Linked DNA regions of Homo sapiens: region 1 is linked to region 2. The links come from fine-mapping of genetic effects on gene expression. A gene starts in region 2. The other region holds a variant in brackets. All regions are shown on one strand. Distances are from middle to middle.

Region 1 (8,310 bases), 350 kb after region 2:
GGCAGAAGAACAGACACACGCAGAGTGAAACAGGAGTGCTTTATGGTCTGAGTGGAGTGTTTGGGAGGAGTGCCTCCCGGCTCCTGCCTTCGGGCTCACCTGAGCGGGGGCGCAGCTGAGGCCACTGTGGGAAACACAACCCCCACTCCCAGGAGAGGCCTCACATGCTGCCTTCGGTCTCGCCAGCCTTCTAGCGTGGGGCCTGGGCCGCCCTTTAGGGTGAGTCTGCACACCCGTGTTCAGGGCTCCCGGCCGGAAGCGGAACCATAGGCATGCTGCGGCCCCAGATGAGCGCGGAGGGCAAGCAGGTGCCGGGGCAGCGCACACCCCACAGCCAAGCGGCCCCTGCCCAGCCTCTGTAAACAGACCCTCACAGGTCCCTCCTGGGCCTCAGTCACATCCCTGAGAAACACTGGCGGCTCTGCCCCGAGAGGGCCAGGGTGTCCACCGAGCCTGGCTGAAGCCAGCTGTCCCCTCCCTTCTTGCAGAGCAGGCTCACACTGGGCCTGAAGGCCCAGCACCTGCAGGGCCCAGCCTGGGGACCACCAATGCCCGGCCTCTTCCAGCTCAGAAGCGCACACGGCAGCCACGGGGCAGCGGCAAAGGCGATGGTACAGAGGCAAATGCCTCCCCAGGCAGTGACAGGCACGCCCCCCGCCCCAGGGCGGCCACTGCCCACGCCGGCCTAGAGCTCCTCGTAGTCGCCACCCCCAGGGTGGCGGCCGCCCGGGGCCCCGCCCCCCAGGAAAGCCTCCAGCTCATCGGCAGCCGTCCTCTCCCTGCTGCGCGGGGGCCGCTGCTGCCGCCGTCGCCGCTCCTCCTTGCCCTCCTCCTTGTCCTTGCTCTTCTTGTGTTTGCTCTTCTTCTTGGCAGCTTTTTCTTCTTCCTGAGGAGCACAAGGATGGGGCGCCATGGAGTCACAGGAAGCCACAGCCCTGGTCCCAGGACCGCATGCCACCCAGTCCTGGCCTGCCAGGAAGGGGAGTAGCCAGTACCTCTTTGCCTTTTTTCTTCTTCTTCTTCTTCTCCTTAGAGGGGGTTTTGCCCTCCTTACCTGCACAGACAGGACAGACAGTGGCTCAAACTCAGGCCAACGGGGACCCCAAGCTGGGTGACAGGACTTCTCTAGAAACTCACAAAGCAGCGAGCCCCAGCCCTCCAGGAGGCCCTGCTGATGGACAGGACCACACTGCAAACATCAGCTCCTGCAGGGGGCTGCCAGGAGCATGGCACAGCATCCTGGACTCAGGAGAGGACCCCGGCCAGCGGCCAGCAGCTGGGAGGAGGCCCACGTTCTACCCAAACTCCAGCAGGCTGACCGCACTCTGGTGCCCCCACCCACCTTCCTCACTGCTCTCCTTGGGTCCGGCCTCCTCCAGCCCCAGCCCGAAGAGGTCCGAGTCATTCTTCAGTCTGAAGGCGGGGAGAGGGAGCTTGGGGGGTGGGGGCGGCTCGGCAGGGCCCTCATCCTCGTCAGTCACATCGGAGGGGTCATCTCGCACGGGAAAGTCATCCTGGAGCAGGGAGAGCAACTGGTCAGGCCATCATCCCTCCCACACCCCCAGGGGTTGTGGGATCTCAAACCAGGCCGGCAAGGCCCAAGTGTGGGGACATGAGATGCCTCTTCCAGAAGCCTCCTCCCACTGCACCCACCCAGATCAGGCCTGTGGGAGGGACCCTGGCCACCTGGCTGACCTCTGCCCCGGGAGGACTCGTCTTACCGCCCTGCGCTGTGTGTCTGATCCCTCGCTCTCAAAGTCGGGGTCATCCATGACGAAGGACAGCATTTGTGCAGCAATGGGTCCCTCGGGGTCACTCTCCGACGAGGAGGCCTGCTCACCCTTCCCCGGCTCCATCTCAGCAGGGGGCCTGGTGCTGCTGCGCTTCTCCGGACCTGTGCGAACAGAGACACCGCCTGGCCAGGGGGGTGCTGCGGTCCTCGTGGGAGCTGTCCCCCTCCGTGGCTTCGAAGCTGGTATGGAGGACCTTTGTGGACAAGCAGAGGGTCAGTCAGGGTCCTCTGGAGGCGTCCTGAACTGCCCCACCCGGGTCTCCAGGCCGCACCCGTGGGGACACCTGCCCTTACCACTTGGTCTCTGGCTCTGAGCACTGCTGGGGAGCTGGGGCAGGGCCTTTTGTGGGAGCTGCCACTTCTGCTTCCTCCTCACTCGAAAGAGTGATGTCTTGACTGGGGACGGGGCCTGCAGGCAGCGGGGGACTCCCACGTGGCTGGTCTTCGAGGTCCACATCGTCCTGGAACCCTGCCACCATCGGGTTGCCGCCCAGGGCCTCCCCATCACTGCAAAGCAGGGGGCAAAGCGGTCAAGGGCCACGGGGTAGGGATGGCTGGCCGGGCTCACGGGCCTTGGTTCTAGGCGCCCTGGTACCCAGCACACCCTGGCCGTGGGGCCACCCCACCCCAGGTGCTGTGTTGTGGAGAGGCCCCCTCATGGTCACAGGGCTTCTGAGCAGGAAGGGGTCGGGGGCACAAGGTTGGACACAGTGCTGCCCTGCGGCCGCTCAGTGGGTGAAGGATGTGGAGCCGCACAAGTGGGCGCTCGTGGAGGAGGCGGGCCCAGCTCAGGGCCACGGGGCTTTCTGTCCTTTGTGTATTTCTGGAGGAAGCCGCTGCCCCACAGCAATGGGTGAGGCTGAGGTGCTGAGGCCACTGTGGGTGGAGCTTGTCCAGGGCTGTCCTGGGACCAAATGCAGGGCTTTGCTGCAGGCAAAATTTGGGGCAGCTTGGCAGACAGAGTGGTGGGAGGGGCTGGCAGATGGCTGGGGAGGCGGCTCTAGCTCCCAGCTCTAGGACCTGCAGGAAGCCGCCCCTGTCTCTGCAGCACCTGGATCCTGGCCCTGTGGAGACCACATCTGGTGGCCTGAACCTCCCATATGACCTGCAGTGGCCTCTCCAATGGCTTCCATGTGGCATCTGCCCACAGAAGACCCCAAGGTGCCCCTGTCCTCTCCAGGGTGTGGGCAGAGCAGGTGGCCAGGCCTTTCTGATGTCTGGAAGCCCCGTCCAAGCCCTTCCCTCGTCTGCTCCAGCCACAGAGCTGCTCTGTCCTCAGCCAACAGTGACCAGCCGGCGGGGGGCCCCTTCTGCGCCCCTAGAAAGCCAGCCCCACCTGCTGCTCGGGCACCCTGGAGGCTGGGGGGCAATGGGAGAGGAGGCCCAGGCCCACCCCTCACCTGTCGCTGTCCTGCTGGGCAGCCTTGGCCCCCACCTTCTTCTCGTCCCTGGCGGGGGTTGTGTCTTCCAGGAAGCTGCGGTCCAGGCGGTCGTCAGGAACAAAGTCCTCCACACTCTGGACCGTTGCTGGGCCCTCTGCGGCCGGGACTGGCTCTGTGAACAGTGATGCCGGGTCCTCTTCACTCGGCACCAGAACCCTCACTGCACCCAACCCCAAGCCAGGCCCACCCGGGATGTGCCCACGGGACTGGGACAAGCAGGAAGAAGCGTGGAGCGCTCCGAAATCCAGGACCCCACCTGTGAGGGCCTGGGGGTCTGGGACCAGTTTGGGAGGGGCAGCTCCAGGGCCTACCTGGAGGTGGAGGGGCTGCCTCGGTGGCAGGTGACGTCCCAAACAGCCTAGAGATGATGCTGCGCCGTGGGGCGGGGGCTGAGGGGCACGCAGGTGGGGGCAGGGCCTCTGAGGGTGGTACAGGGGGCACAGAGGATGGTGGGGCGGCATTGAGGGGCAGCTGTGGGGCGGGCTGGGGTGTGCCGGGGCTGGAGCTCCCCGTGGACACAGCGCCTGCAGGCACCACTGGTGACTGGGAGCCCGGGGATGGGCTCTGCCCGTTGGCCGCCAGTGGGGACGCATGGCCACGGCTGCGAGCCTCCATCATCTCCAGGAAGCTGAAAGGCAGAAGGCGGGTGAGAAGCCTGGCTCCCCTGCCTCTCCCTGAGGCCCTCAGGTGACAGGGGGCTCTCTGCTGCTGCTGCTGGGGCTGGGAAGAGCCACTGTGTTCTGGGCCACCCGCCCCACAGAGGCCATCATCCCCATCCACTTCCAAGGGCAGCAGTGCCAGCCAGGCACGGTGGCTCATGCCTGTAATCCCAGCACTGTAGGAGGCCAAGGCAGGCAGATCACGAGGTCAGGAGGTGGAGACCGTCCTGGCTAA[C/T]GCAGTGAAACCCCGTCTCTACTAAAAATACAAAAAAAATTAGCCGGGTGTGGTGGCGGGTGCCTGTAGCCCCAGCTACTTGGGAGGCTGAGGCAGGAGAATGGCGTGAACCCGGGAGGCGGAGCTTGCGGTGAGCCGAGATCACACCACTGCGCTCCAGCCTGGGCGACAGAGCGAGACTCCATCTCAGAAAAAGAAAGAGCAGCAGTGCCAAAGGGTGGGGACAGCAGGCACCAGCGTACATGTGTCCAGCTCCCCTGAAAGTCACTTCGGATCTGTTCTGAGGCACAGCTGTTGGGGGCTCCATGCAGAGGTGGCCAGATGGCAGCAACTGGACCTTCCCGTGAGCGGGGGTTTCTGGGAAGAGGAGGGGGCTGGGGCTTGGTGGAGCACGTGCGGCCATCGCAGCATCCAGCTGACCCAACTCTCAGGCCCAGGAAATGCCAGGATTGGTTCAACAGAGAAGCGCCCATGCGGGGGGCTCCATTCTGGGGCTGGCCTGGCAGCTGGAAGCCACGGGTCCCTCTCCAGGCATCAAACTGCCTTCCCTCTCGGTCTCTTGCTGTGTCTGAGCCAACAGCCAGATCCAAGGTGACCCACAGGGCTCTCCTTCTGGAAACAGAGACCTCCTGGGGGGCCTCAGGAGGGCCACTGATTCCGTGGTCCCTGCCTGGGTCCCAGGGGAGGCACCAAGCCCCTAGCTGTACAGGAGCCTGAGGCAGAGAACGGGCCAGCTGTCCCACTGGCCGCAACCCCGGGGCTATGCACTGCCCAGGCCCACTCAGGAGGATGCTCTGAGCCGCCCTCTGCTATCGAGGACCAGAGACCTCCATGTCCTGGCCTGTATGCCTCTTCAACACAGGGAGCTTCCCAAAGTCAAGCAGCTCCCCAGAAAGCACACCCCATGCTGGCATCAATCTGGGAGGCCAAGCCCCTGATGGGCAGGCAGCCCCAGCAGCACTCCATGAGCACCAGCACCTGGCCACGGTCAGCGGTACTCAGAGTGGCAGGCACAGCATGACCTGTATGAGGAGTCCACGCCAGGGGTGACTGTGGGGGGGCTGCTGGGGGCAGTGCAAACCTGAGTCCTCCTCCACCCGTGCCCAAAGGTGACTAATTTACCCCAAACAGGGGACACTCCCCTCTGCTGTCTCCTTGGTGCAGCCCATGGCCCTGCACCACGGCCACGCCCGCAGCCCCCACACCGCCCGCACGGGCGGGTCCGGCCACATACATGCCGTAGTTCTGGTCCTCCGTCTCCTGCTGCACCGACAGCTCCTCCAGCGTGGCGTCCATGTCCAGCTGGTTCGTCTCCAGCTGCCGCAACAGCGTCTCCCTCTGCAGAAAGGGAGCACGCAGGCCTGAGCAGGGCTCCTTCCTGCTGCGAGTGCCCCAGCCCCACAGCCCCTGAATGCACAGGGGACGCCTCCTGCTGCCAAAACCAGGAGATGCTGCAGGGCTGGCTGCTCAGCAACTCATGGAGCTCTGCGCTGGGCCCCACTTGAACCACAGAAGCCCAGAGGATTCCTCTGCGGTGGCCGGCACGACACCTACACACTGCCAGCATGGCTTGGGGGACAGCTGTCAGTCACAGGCATAAACCTCAACAGCAAGCACCCCCACCCACACACGCACCTCTAAGAGTGAAGAAGCCGCACCTTCACCTGGGAAACAAAGCCCCTCTGCTCCCCGCCACGCACACCTCCTCTGGTGGCAGGACACATCCCCGGTGCACGCGTCGCCACCGTCCCACACCCACAAGCAGCTGGCTCTGGAGCAAACCACTGCCCTCCTGGCCTGGAACCCCAGGCTGGTCTGATGAGCTGCGGGTCCCTGTGGCTGCTCACTTTAGATTCAAATGAAATACAAACGCCGGAGCCTCACGAACTCCTGACCTCAGGTGATCCAGCTGCCTCAGCATCCAAAGTGCGAGGATGACAGTCGGGAGCCACCGTGCCCGGCCCCTTCTCTTTTTTTAAATAGAGATGGGGTCTCGCTATGTTGCCCAGACTGGTCTCTAATTCCTGGACTCAAGTGATCCTCCCAGCTTGGCCTCTGCTGAAATTACAGGCCTGAGCTACTTGCCTGGCCTCTCCTTTTTTTTTTTTTGAATCATCTTTTTCAGAGATTTTTTTTTTTTTTTTTTTTTTAGAACAGGGTCATGCTATATTATATTGCCCAGGCAGAAGATCTGGAACTCCTGGGCTCGAGCTGTCCTCCCACCTCTGCCTCCCTAACAGCTGGGATTATAGGCGTGAGCCACTGCGCCCAGCCTGGAGAGGTTTTTAAAATAAAAATGTGAGGCTGGGCGTGGTGGCTCACACCTGTAATCCCAGCACTTTGGGGGGGCCAAGGCGGGCAGATCACGAGGTCAAGAGATCGAGACCGTCCTGGCCAATATGGCAAAACCCCGTCCCTACTAAAAATACAAAAATTAGCCAGGCGTGGTGGCAGGCGCCTGTAATCCCAGCTACTTGGGAGGCTTAGGCAGGAGAATCGCTTGAACCCAGGAGGCAGAGGTTACAGTGAGGCAAGATTGCACCACCGTACTCCAGCCTGGACAGAGTGAGACTCCGTCTCCAAAAAAAAGAGTGTATTAAAGTCATTAAGGTCCCCAGGCTATAACAACAACAAAAAAATGTGATTTACAAAGAGAAATCTACAGACTTGTCAACCAAATGTAATGTGTGAACTCTGGATCCTACTCTGAATACTGACCAAATATCTGACGACTGGAAGAACTCTTTGGGAATTTTATTTTTTCAATTTGTTATTGTGGCTTATTTCTCCAAGAAAAACCTTCTGTGAGTTTAACATGCGGTATTACATTAGGTACTACGGTCAGGTTAAAAAAACAACTGATTTTTTTAGAGATGTGTTTGAAATATTTTTAGGTGACATAAAGAAGGCCTGAAATTTGCTTCCAGGCAATCCAGGGGCAAGACAAAGAGGAAACAGGGGTCCCGCTGCTGAGACAGGCGAGGACATCAGATCTGCTTGAACACATCCATAGCAAAAGGATAGTCACACACAGCTCAGCCCTACGCTTCCAGCTCAAGACTCTGTCCAGGGTCCCGTTCTCTCCCTGGGAGGCTTTGGAAGGGTTTGGAGGGCAAACCATTAGGGAATGGAGCAGCTGAGCAGTGGGGAGCTCTCTAAGGAGTAATCAACCCAGTGATGAGGGGACGGCTCTGCAGGAAGGAGGGGCCTCCCCAGCAGTGCCGGCACAGGACAAGTCTGACTGCCGCCTTCCTTCCAACCCAAACGTCCCCAGCAGCAGTCCCAGCCTGCAGGCATCCTCACTTCTTCTGACACCAGGACGACAGCACAGCCCCTTTCCTGGGCAAGCCTGACATCCTTCTGGAGAAAGACCAAGGCTGCTGCAGCTGCAGCTGGGCCCCAGGTCCCCCAGACCCAGTCGGGGCAGCCCAGGGCGAGGAGGTTCAGGTCCCCCAGACCCAGCTGGGGCAGCCCAGGGCGAGGAGGTTCAGGTCCCCAGACCCAGCTGGGGCAGCCCAGGGTGAGGAGATTCAGGTCCCCCAGACCCAGTCGGGGCAGCCCAGGGCGAGGAGGTTCAGGTCCCCCAGACCCAGGCGGGGCAGCCCAGGGCGAGGAGGTACAGGTCCCCCAGACCCAGCTGGGGCAGCCCAGGGCGAGGAGGTTCAGGTCCCCCAGACCCAGGCGGGGCAGCCCAGGCAAGGAGGTTCAGGTCCCCCAGACCCAGGCGGGGCAGCCCAGGGCGAGGAGGTTCAGGTCCCCCAGATCCAGCTGGGGCAGCCCAGGGCGAGGAGGTTCAGGTCCCCCAGACCCAGCTGGGGCAGCCCAGGGCGAGGAGGTTCAGGTCCCCCAGACCCAGCTGGGGCAGCCCAGGGCGAGGAGGTTCAGGTCCCCAGACCCAGGTGGGGCAGCCCAGGGCGAGGAGGTTCAGGTCCCCAGACCCAGGCGGGGCAGCCCAGGGCGAGGAGGTTCAGGTCCCCAGACCCAGGCGGGGCAGCCCAGGGCGAGGAGGTTCAGGTCCCCAGACCCAGCTGGGGCAGCCCAGGGCGAGGAGGTTCAGGTCCCCCAGACCCAGTCAGGGCAGCCCAGGGCGAGGAGGTTCAGGTCCCCCAGACCCAATCAGGGCAGCCCAGGGCGAGGAGGTTCAAGCCTCATCATTTGCTGGGCTACTTTGCAGCCACAGCT
Region 2 (8,310 bases):
CTCCCTAGAGCAGGAGGAAGAGGTGGACCAGCAGGAGGAGGAGGAGGAGGAGGAGGAGGAAGAGGAAGAGGAGGAAGAGGGATCCGGCTCAGAGGAGAAGCCCTTTGCACTCTTCCTGCCCCGGGCCACGTTTGTGAGCAGCGTGAGACCCGAGAGCTCTCGGCTGCCAGAGGGTAGCTCAGGTGAGTGCCCACCTGGGGGACAGGCAGCCTGGGAGGGGTGGAGCCTGGTCTGTGTCCACGTCTGCATGTGCACCTCCATTCACAGGCCTGTCCAGCTACACCCCGAAGCACTCTGTGGCCTTCAGCAAGTGGCAGGAGCAGGCGCTGGAGCAGGCCCCGAGGGAGGCAGAGCCCCCGCCCGTGGAGGCCATGGTGAGATGCGGGGGAGTGGAGCGCTGGGGGGAGTCTGACACCCGGGCGAGCCCATGTGTCCACATTCTGTCCTCTCACTTTCAGCTCACACCCGCCAGTCAGAATGACCTCTCGGACTTCCGCAGCGAGCCAGCCCTGTATTTCTGAGCCCAGCACTGCCAGGACCAAGGCTGAGCCCAGCTGTGGGAGTCCCGGAAGCTGGGCAGTAGCCAGGGACTACTGCACCCGCTTCTGCCTTGTTTGGCCTCACTGTATCCCACCCACCCCTCCTGGCCCTGGAAGCAGCTAGGGTGCCTCCTGCCATCGGGGCCAGGTCTGGGTCTCACTCCCCGGCCCTGATTTGGGAGGGTCCAAGGGGGAAGTGGGGTGGGGAACTGCCTGTGGGTGAGTGCCAGGGGCCTGCTGGGTGGTGGCCATCTGCGACCCGGCAGGGGGCTGTGCAGATTCTGCACCTGGCCATTCCCTGTCCTGTCTCCTCAGCCTGCCTCACAGTGGCCATGGGGTGTCGGGGTGAAGGGCTGTCCCAGCTACTTGTCCTCTGCAGGACCCTAAGCCCCTGCCCGCAGCCCACATGCCCTCTGTGATGAGTGGCGTCTTTCCTGCCTCTGATGATGGACTCAATAAACAGCACTGGACAAGGCTGCTGGTGTCCCCACTGCGTGGTCCTTGGCTGAGAAGGGAGCAGGGGGAGGTCTCTGCAGGAAGAGGCCACATGGGGTCCAGTGGGCCCCAGTTTGCACGTCTATGCCAGGGTGTGTGGGAGGTGACCCCGATCTGGTACCCCCACTCCTTGATGTCCCAGTGGCCAAGGCTCTGACCTCCCAACTTCCATGGCCTGTTAACCTGTTGCCCCTCCACCCCAGCCTCCCAGAGCTGGCACTGTGGGAGGTAGGATGACAGGCCTGCTGTCAGGGGCCTAGACTTCAGGTGGGAGGGTGAGAGTGTTGCAGCTGTTGGGCCTGAAGTGGCTTCTCTGAGGGGCCCAGAGCCTGGGGAGGGACCAAGGGAAGGGCAGCATGAGGGCAGCACAGGGGACGGTGTCTTCTGCTGGGCTTGGCGTGCCCCCCGACCCACAGGATGAGGCAGGCCGGGAGCAGCGCCTGCCTCAGACGGCCAGAGCTGGGGCTGTTTACAGCCCATGGAACCCAAGCACCATTTCCTCCCTGGAGGATCAAACCTAAGAGCAAAGAGATAAAGAGATGCTGTCTGGCCAAACTCCGGCGGAAGGAGAGTTTGGTGTATTTCCCTGGTCGGGTTAGGCCCAGCTCTTTTCTGGACCCTCTGGATCAACACATGCCTCCCAAATCGGCCCAGTCCTCGGGCCATGCTTGGTTGCTGCAGGGACAAAACAGAGGCCCCAGGGCACATGGAAGGATGGAAGTGGCCAGTGCTTGGTGTGCGGCCAGGGAAAGGTGGGCAGCAGGGCCTGGTGGCAGCAGTGGTGTCATCAGGCCAAGCAAAACTTGCAACTGAGGAACCGACGGGGGTGGGGGGTGTGAACTCCCCCCAGTCCTTGCTGAGAGGGACCTGAATCTGAGGCAGCTGCTGGATATGCTTGGCATCCCCAGCTGTCTCTCTGGGCTGGGTCCTATGCTGGCCACCAGGGTGTGGCAGAGAACAGGACGAGCAAGCAGAGCTCCTGAGAGGAGGGTGAGCCGTGGGCCAGTCAGGGGAAGAGGACCGGCGGCCCTGCTGGGGAGGGCTCAGGGTGGGGCTGGCCTGGGGAGGGTGGGCACCCTCAGCGGTGTCCCTGAGGCTAGTGGGGCAGTCACAGGGAGGCCACTCCAGACCCTCCTCCCTCCTCTCCCAAGGGGGAGCCTCAGGCTCTGGCTCTGCAGGTGTCTGGCAGCCCCATGCTGTTGATACGGGCAAGCAGCAGGCTGGCACGGATCTTTACAAAGATAATCTTTATTCATAATCACAGGCCACAGGGGTGAGACCTGAGGTTTGGGTTCTGTGGTGAAGGAGAACCCCTGTCCTCCTGTCCCTTGCCCTGGGCCTCTGCTGGCTGAGGAGGGACAAGGTGAGGGGGCCCCCATGGTGCTCAGACAACCAGAGCCTCCCTGGCAGGGCAGGAGTGTGGGTGCCACAGAGACAAGCCCCTTGCAGAGCTGACCTGGAGCCCACCATCCCCATAGCCTGTGTGAGCATGAAGCGAGGACCCCCGGGTGGGCTGTGCCCTGGGCTTGTCACTGATGCCAGTGGAGGCTGGCACCTGCCCCTCTCGGCACCTGAGACAGTGAGGGAAGGTAGCTGCTGCCGTGAAGAACAAAGATGCTCTGAGCACACACTTGCTGGGGCTGAGCTGAGGGGCACACGGAGGCAGGCCCTGCCCGTGGTCTGGTCAGCTGTCCCTGCCGCCGCTACTTTTCTGGTCTGGGGCTGTAGCCTTGGTCAGGTTCCCAGCTTCCCTCTTGAGAACGCTGAGCAAAGTCTGGGAGCTCTCCAGGATCTGGGGCCAGAGAAGTGAGAAGGTTGTTAATGTTCACCTGTTGGTAAGGTCCTAAGCCCCAGCTGTCCTCACACTCAGGTGCTGGGACCTGGCTGGGGGTGCTGTAGCCAAGGGATCCTGTGTGGGGGAAGGCGGAAGCCCAAGGGGACTGGCAGACGGGGTGGCAGGGCCCTCTTCCCTCCGGAATCTGACCCAAAACACTTCCTCTCCACCCTCAAAGCCAGGCTGGGTTAGCACTGGCCCGTGCTGGGTGCTCTGCCCAAGACCTGGCTCTTCACACTGAGCAGAAATAACCACATGGCTAGCGAGAACCGGATAAAGACCAGGACCCAGGATGCCCCAGGCCCCACAGACAGCCCCACAGTCACTCCCACAGCAGCCTGGGTTCCTCAATGGGCCTGGCCACGCTGCCCCTGCCCGAAATGCCAGCGAGGCACAGACTGCCCACAGCCGGGAGCCCCAGCCGGTCCTGACGCCTTGCCGTGGCAACACCCCTGCCGTGCCTATCCCCTGATGCTCGGCCTGGCCTCCCGAGCTCCACCTTGAGGTAGGCGGCCTCCGTCTCCGCGATGGTCCGGTCGAACTCGTTGCGAGAGGCAATCTTGCGTGCCAGGTTCTCGTTGACGCGGGCCAGCTTCTCTGTCAGCTGCCTCACCTCATTCTGCAGCCGCTGCTTCTCGTCCTCCTCCTCCTGGATCTGCCGGCACAGCTCCTCCCGCTTCTGGCACAGCTCCTCTATGCCTGGGGGCCGGGAGGGGCGGCGCTGTGGGCCCAGGGCAGGAGCGCGGCGGCGGAGGGCGGGCCTCCTTCCACCCGAGGAAGCCAGAGTCAGGCACCACCCCCGAGCGCCCGGCGCGGGGCCTGCGAGCCAGCGAGGGCTCGGGCCACGGACACCCGGCCTCCGGCACGGAGGGCTCTGCTCAGCCGCGCGATGCCCGCAGCGAGGCGGGTCCAGGGGCACCCCGCTGCGAGCCGGGAACCCGGCCCTGCGGCCCTCCCGACCTCCCCGTCCCGGCTGCGCCGCTCACACTTGACCAGCTCGTTGTTGTAGTTCTGCAGCGCCGCGCCCTGCTGGGTCATGGTCAACGCCGCCCGGGGCCCCACCACCCCAACCGCCGCGGAAGCAGCGCTGTCCGCGCCTGCGCACGACTCCCCCACGGCGCGCCGAACTAGCGCGTCATCGCTGAGCGCCTTGTGCGCGTCATGGCTGCGCGTGCAGACGTGCGTCATCGCCGCGCGCCGCGCCGAGCGAATCTCGGAGTCGGTGGGTGCAGATGGCGGCGGCAGTTGTGGTGGCGGAGGGGGACAGCGACTCCCGGCCCGGACAGGAGTTGTTAGTGGCCTGGAACACCGTGAGCACCGGCCTGGTGCCGCCGGCTGCGCTGGGGCTGGTGAGGCCTGGGAAGAGAGGGGCGGCCCCGCGCGGAGTTTCCGGGACCGTACGCGCTTTGGGGCCGCTACCCTCGGGTTCATACGGCTCTGTCCATCATCCGCCTCTGTCCTGTCCTGCCATTTTCCACCACCTTTCCGTTTCGTTTCGTTCAGCTCCGCTGACAGCCCTTCCATAGCTTCGGCCCAACGTCCGGGCAGCACGGACAGGGGGCAGCGGAGTTTTTGCAGCCTCCCCCTCAGCTTCTTCCCTTCCCCGCCTCTCCCCACCTCTATGTTGTGTTCCCCTCGCCTCACGGTTTTCTGCACCCCAGGTGTCTTCCCGGACCAGCGGTGCAGTCCCGCCAAAGGAAGAGGAGCTCCGGGCGGCGGTGGAGGTTCTGAGGGGCCACGGGCTACACTCGGTCCTGGAGGAGTGGTTCGTGGAGGTGCTGCAGAACGATCTGCAGGCCAACATCTCCCCTGAGTTCTGGAATGCCATCTCCCAATGCGAGAACTCTGCGGATGAGCCCCAGTGCCTTTTGCTACTCCTTGACGCTTTTGGCCTGCTGGAGAGCCGCCTGGATCCCTACCTGCGTAGCCTAGAGCTGCTGGAGAAATGGACTCGCCTGGGCTTGCTGATGGGCACTGGTGCTCAGGGGCTGCGAGAAGAAGTCCACACTATGTTGCGCGGAGTCTTGTTCTTTAGCACCCCCAGAACCTTCCAAGAGATGATCCAGCGTCTGTATGGGTGCTTCTTGAGAGTCTATATGCAGAGTAAGAGGAAGGGGGAAGGGGGCACAGACCCGGAACTGGAAGGGGAGCTGGACAGCCGGTATGCCCGTCGCCGGTACTACCGGCTCCTGCAGAGCCCGCTGTGTGCAGGGTGCAGCAGTGACAAGCAACAGTGCTGGTGTCGCCAGGCTCTGGAGCAGTTCCATCAGCTCAGCCAGGTCTTGTGAGTAGTCTGTCCCGATGGCCATGCCCTTGCTCCTTCTGGTTCCCCGCTGCTCCCCTGGGTCCAGCTGGCCTCAGCAGAAAGCTGGTGAGCCGTCCTGATAACCAGGAACATGACAGAGAGAGAGTCCCAGGGATTCCTGTGCAGCGTGTCCTGGACACAGGTGTCTCTCTTCTGTCACTCACCTTCAGTCCCACAGATTCATGCCTTGACCCTGGTAAGGCCCTATGTGGCTTGTGTCTGCAGCAGCAAATTTCTTAGCAACTCCAAACTTCCTGGACTCTGCAGAATTCCACTGTGCCTTTTGTCGATCCTGGGGAGGAATGATTCTCACCCTCGTCGACATTCCTTGCCCTGTAATTGTGAACAGAAGCTTGCTGCTGCTTCTCTCCAGGAAGATCAGGTCACTGTGAGGGCAAGCAGTCTCTTGTTAGTTTGGAGAGGAGAGGGGTTTGTTGTGAGAGACAGGTCCTGTTGTAGTTCTCTAGCAATTGTCATACCCTTGGCCATTTGTGGTGGTTTTGTCACATTGAACGGGGGTGTAGCCATGCAGCTACTTGAGAGGTCTTAGGTGGACTAAAGGTGGACTAAAGGAGTGCTCCTTTTGCTGGCAGGGGTCAGGGAGACCGTGAAGGGCTTCTGTTGGGCTCATCCCTGCAAAAGTTACACGGCAACTTTTCTCATCCTCCTCTTGAGTCCTTTTGTCACTGTAGACCAGAGACTGCACTGAAAGGCACAAACAGTGGCATCTGTACCTCTGCGGCCAGGGTAGCAGTGCAGTTGGTTGTCGTTTCAGAGTTGATCCTAGGAGATAAGGCTAGGGCCCCCGACAGCCACACCTGCTGCCACTGATCACATGGGGAAGGCCAGTGTCCCTACCTGGATAGAGGCCAGCTGGGCGGGGACAGCAGAGCCTGGGAGTGCTCTGTGCTCCCAGTGGCTTCTTGAAGCCTTTGGTACAACCGCCCCCCACAGCTGAGGATTGTGGGGAGGTGTGTGCTGGGTGTGTGTGTGTGTGTGTGCTGCATGCACTCTACAGGCAGGGCAGTCCTGGCATGGGGCTGTTCTGGGCTAGAGGGGCCGGTGTGTGCTCTGGGTGCCCCATGGCCAGGGCTCTCCTCTAGACACAGGCTCAGTCTGCTGGAGCGGGTCAGTGCCGAGGCTGTGACCACCACCCTGCACCAGGTGACCCGGGAGAGGATGGAGGACCGTTGCCGGGGCGAGTACGAGCGCTCCTTCCTGCGTGAGTTCCACAAGGTGAGGACCCCTCCCTTGGGCTGTGCCCCGCTGGAGACAGGGGAGTAGGTTTCTGGCAAACCTGACACCTGGCTTCAGAAGCATCCAGAGCACGGAGGCCTGGGTGGGCCCAGACCGGGTGGTGGCTGGAGCTGTCTTGATGTGGGGTAGAGACCAGTACTTCTGGGCCCTGGTGATAGCGAGGACGCATCTGAGGTGCGCTCTTCGGATCTGCGCAGAATCCCATGGCTGCAGGCGGTATCGGGCCAGGATCCCGAGGGGGCTACCTCAGGCAGGTGTGGCGAAGCTGGGCCCACCAGAGGAGCCACTGAATGGATCCCCTTCTCCTGTTTGCTGCCCTACTTGAGTGTGGACTCGCTTGGCCGGTCCCTAATGGACTGACCTACAGCCAGCCTGCACCACAGCGGGGAGCGAGACACCCTCACATGGGGCCTCCAGGCACCTGTGCTGTTGGGGTGTGGTCTGGGGCTCTGCTCTGGGCTCCCGGAGCCATAGGGGAGCTGGGCCCAGCCATGTGGGTCCCCCCATCCTGTTCCCATGTGTCACCTGTCCTTTCCTCAGTGTTTCAGAGTCCCCCTACTGAGGTGCAGATTGGCTGTGATGTTGGGTTTTCAAAGAGGGAGGGTGTCCCCAAAGCGGTGGGCAAGAGTGGGTAGTAGGGTGGAGAGGGTGAACATCCGTGCGGTCTTGCCACTGGGTAGCAGGTCTGTGGGGCATGAGCACGCCTGGGCCCCGCGGCGGAATTGCCACCTAGAGGTTTGTGCTCGCCTGGGCCCCCCGGCTGGTCTCAAGGGCGTGTTTATCCATTTAAGTGGGGGCAAGTGTGCCCACCAGGCACAGCGCACAGGTCGTGTGTGTCTGTCATGTCTCACGCTAGGGTTGCTGCTGCCAGTGATAAGTGTGGGCACTGGCGCGTGTGAGAGGCACGAAGACTGCAGGGGGGCCGGGACGTCGCCTTTTGGGCCATCACCCACCCTGCAGGTTTTGATGTGCTCCAGCCTCCAGACGCAGGTGGCCTTCGGGCTCCCCTCGGTCCCGGCCGACAGGGTGGGTGGCCGTGAGGCTCCTCCCAGCCTCTGAGTCAGCCCGGGGCTCACCATGCCTCCCTGCAGCTCACACTAGCGTTCTCCTGACAGTGGATCGAGCGGGTGGTCGGCTGGCTCGGCAAGGTGTTCCTGCAGGACGGCCCCGCCAGGCCCGCATCTCCCGAGGCCGGCAACACCCTGCGCCGCTGGCGCTGCCACGTGCAAAGGTTCTTCTACCGCATCTACGCCAGCCTGCGCATCGAGGAGCTCTTCAGCATCGTCCGAGGTGGTCCTGCCCCGGCCCTGGGGTCCGCTCTCCCGTCTGGGGAGTCTTCCCAGGGCCTTCCCCGTGTCTCCTCTGTGTCTGCATCTGGGCTCCCTGTGCCTTCACCGTGTCTGCTCTGTGTCTGCGTCTGGGGCTCCCAGGGCCTTTGCCGTGTCTGCTCTGTGTCTGCGTCTGGGCTCCCTGTGTCTGCGTCTTGGGCTCCCTGTGCCTTCGCCGTGTCTGCTCTGTGTCTGCGTCTGGGCTCCCTGTGTCTGCGTCTGGGCTCCCTGTGCCTTCACCGTGTCTGCTCTGTCTGCGTCTGGGGCTCCCAGGGCCTTCGCCGTGTCTGCTCTGTCTGCGTCTGGGCTCCCTGTGTCTGCGTCTGGGGCTCCCAGGGCCTTCGCTGTGTCTGCTCTGTGTCTGCATCTGGGCTCCCTGTGCCTTCGCCGTGTCTGCTCTGTGTCTGCGTCTTGGGCTCCCTGTGCCTTCACCGTGTCTGCTCTGTGTCTGCGTCTGGGCTCCCTGTGTCTGCGTCTGGGCTCCCCGTGCCTTCACCGTGTCTGCTCTTTGTCTGCATCTGGGGCTCCCAGGGCCTTCGTCGTGTCTGCTCT

What was found. PIP is the estimated chance that this variant, and not a neighbour inherited with it, causes the effect.
Region 1: its variant is fine-mapped to the expression of SSNA1 in whole blood (TOPMed, PIP above 0.99).

What each region holds. Positions count from the first base shown.
Region 1 is chr9:136,832,898-136,841,207 of GRCh38, reverse strand. It overlaps RABL6 (RAB, member RAS oncogene family like 6), which reads right to left. Exons shown (of 15, transcript NM_024718.5): 8 at 5,363-5,466; 9 at 3,546-3,862; 10 at 3,193-3,346; 11 at 2,087-2,299; 12 at 1,722-1,986; 13 at 1,343-1,514; 14 at 996-1,054; 15 at 21-886. The coding sequence ends at 686. Among named protein-coding and RNA genes, the nearest start is that of AJM1, 5.4 kb to the left of the region's middle. RefSeq lists an enhancer at 2,011-2,892. The variant C/T (reference allele first, on the strand shown) is at 4,129.
Region 2 is chr9:137,184,323-137,192,632 of GRCh38, reverse strand. SSNA1 (SS nuclear autoantigen 1) reads right to left here and starts at 3,957. Exons shown (of 3, transcript NM_003731.3): 1 at 3,855-3,957; 2 at 3,368-3,567; 3 at 2,267-2,826. The coding sequence starts at 3,906. The coding sequence ends at 2,719. ANAPC2 (anaphase promoting complex subunit 2) reads left to right here and starts at 4,073. Exons shown (of 13, transcript NM_013366.4): 1 at 4,073-4,217; 2 at 4,530-5,152; 3 at 6,277-6,409; 4 at 7,546-7,720. The coding sequence starts at 4,101. It overlaps TPRN (taperin), which reads left to right. Exons shown (of 4, transcript NM_001128228.3): 2 at 1-182; 3 at 268-374; 4 at 459-1,014. The coding sequence ends at 521. RefSeq lists a silencer at 3,566-3,915 and an enhancer at 3,946-4,165.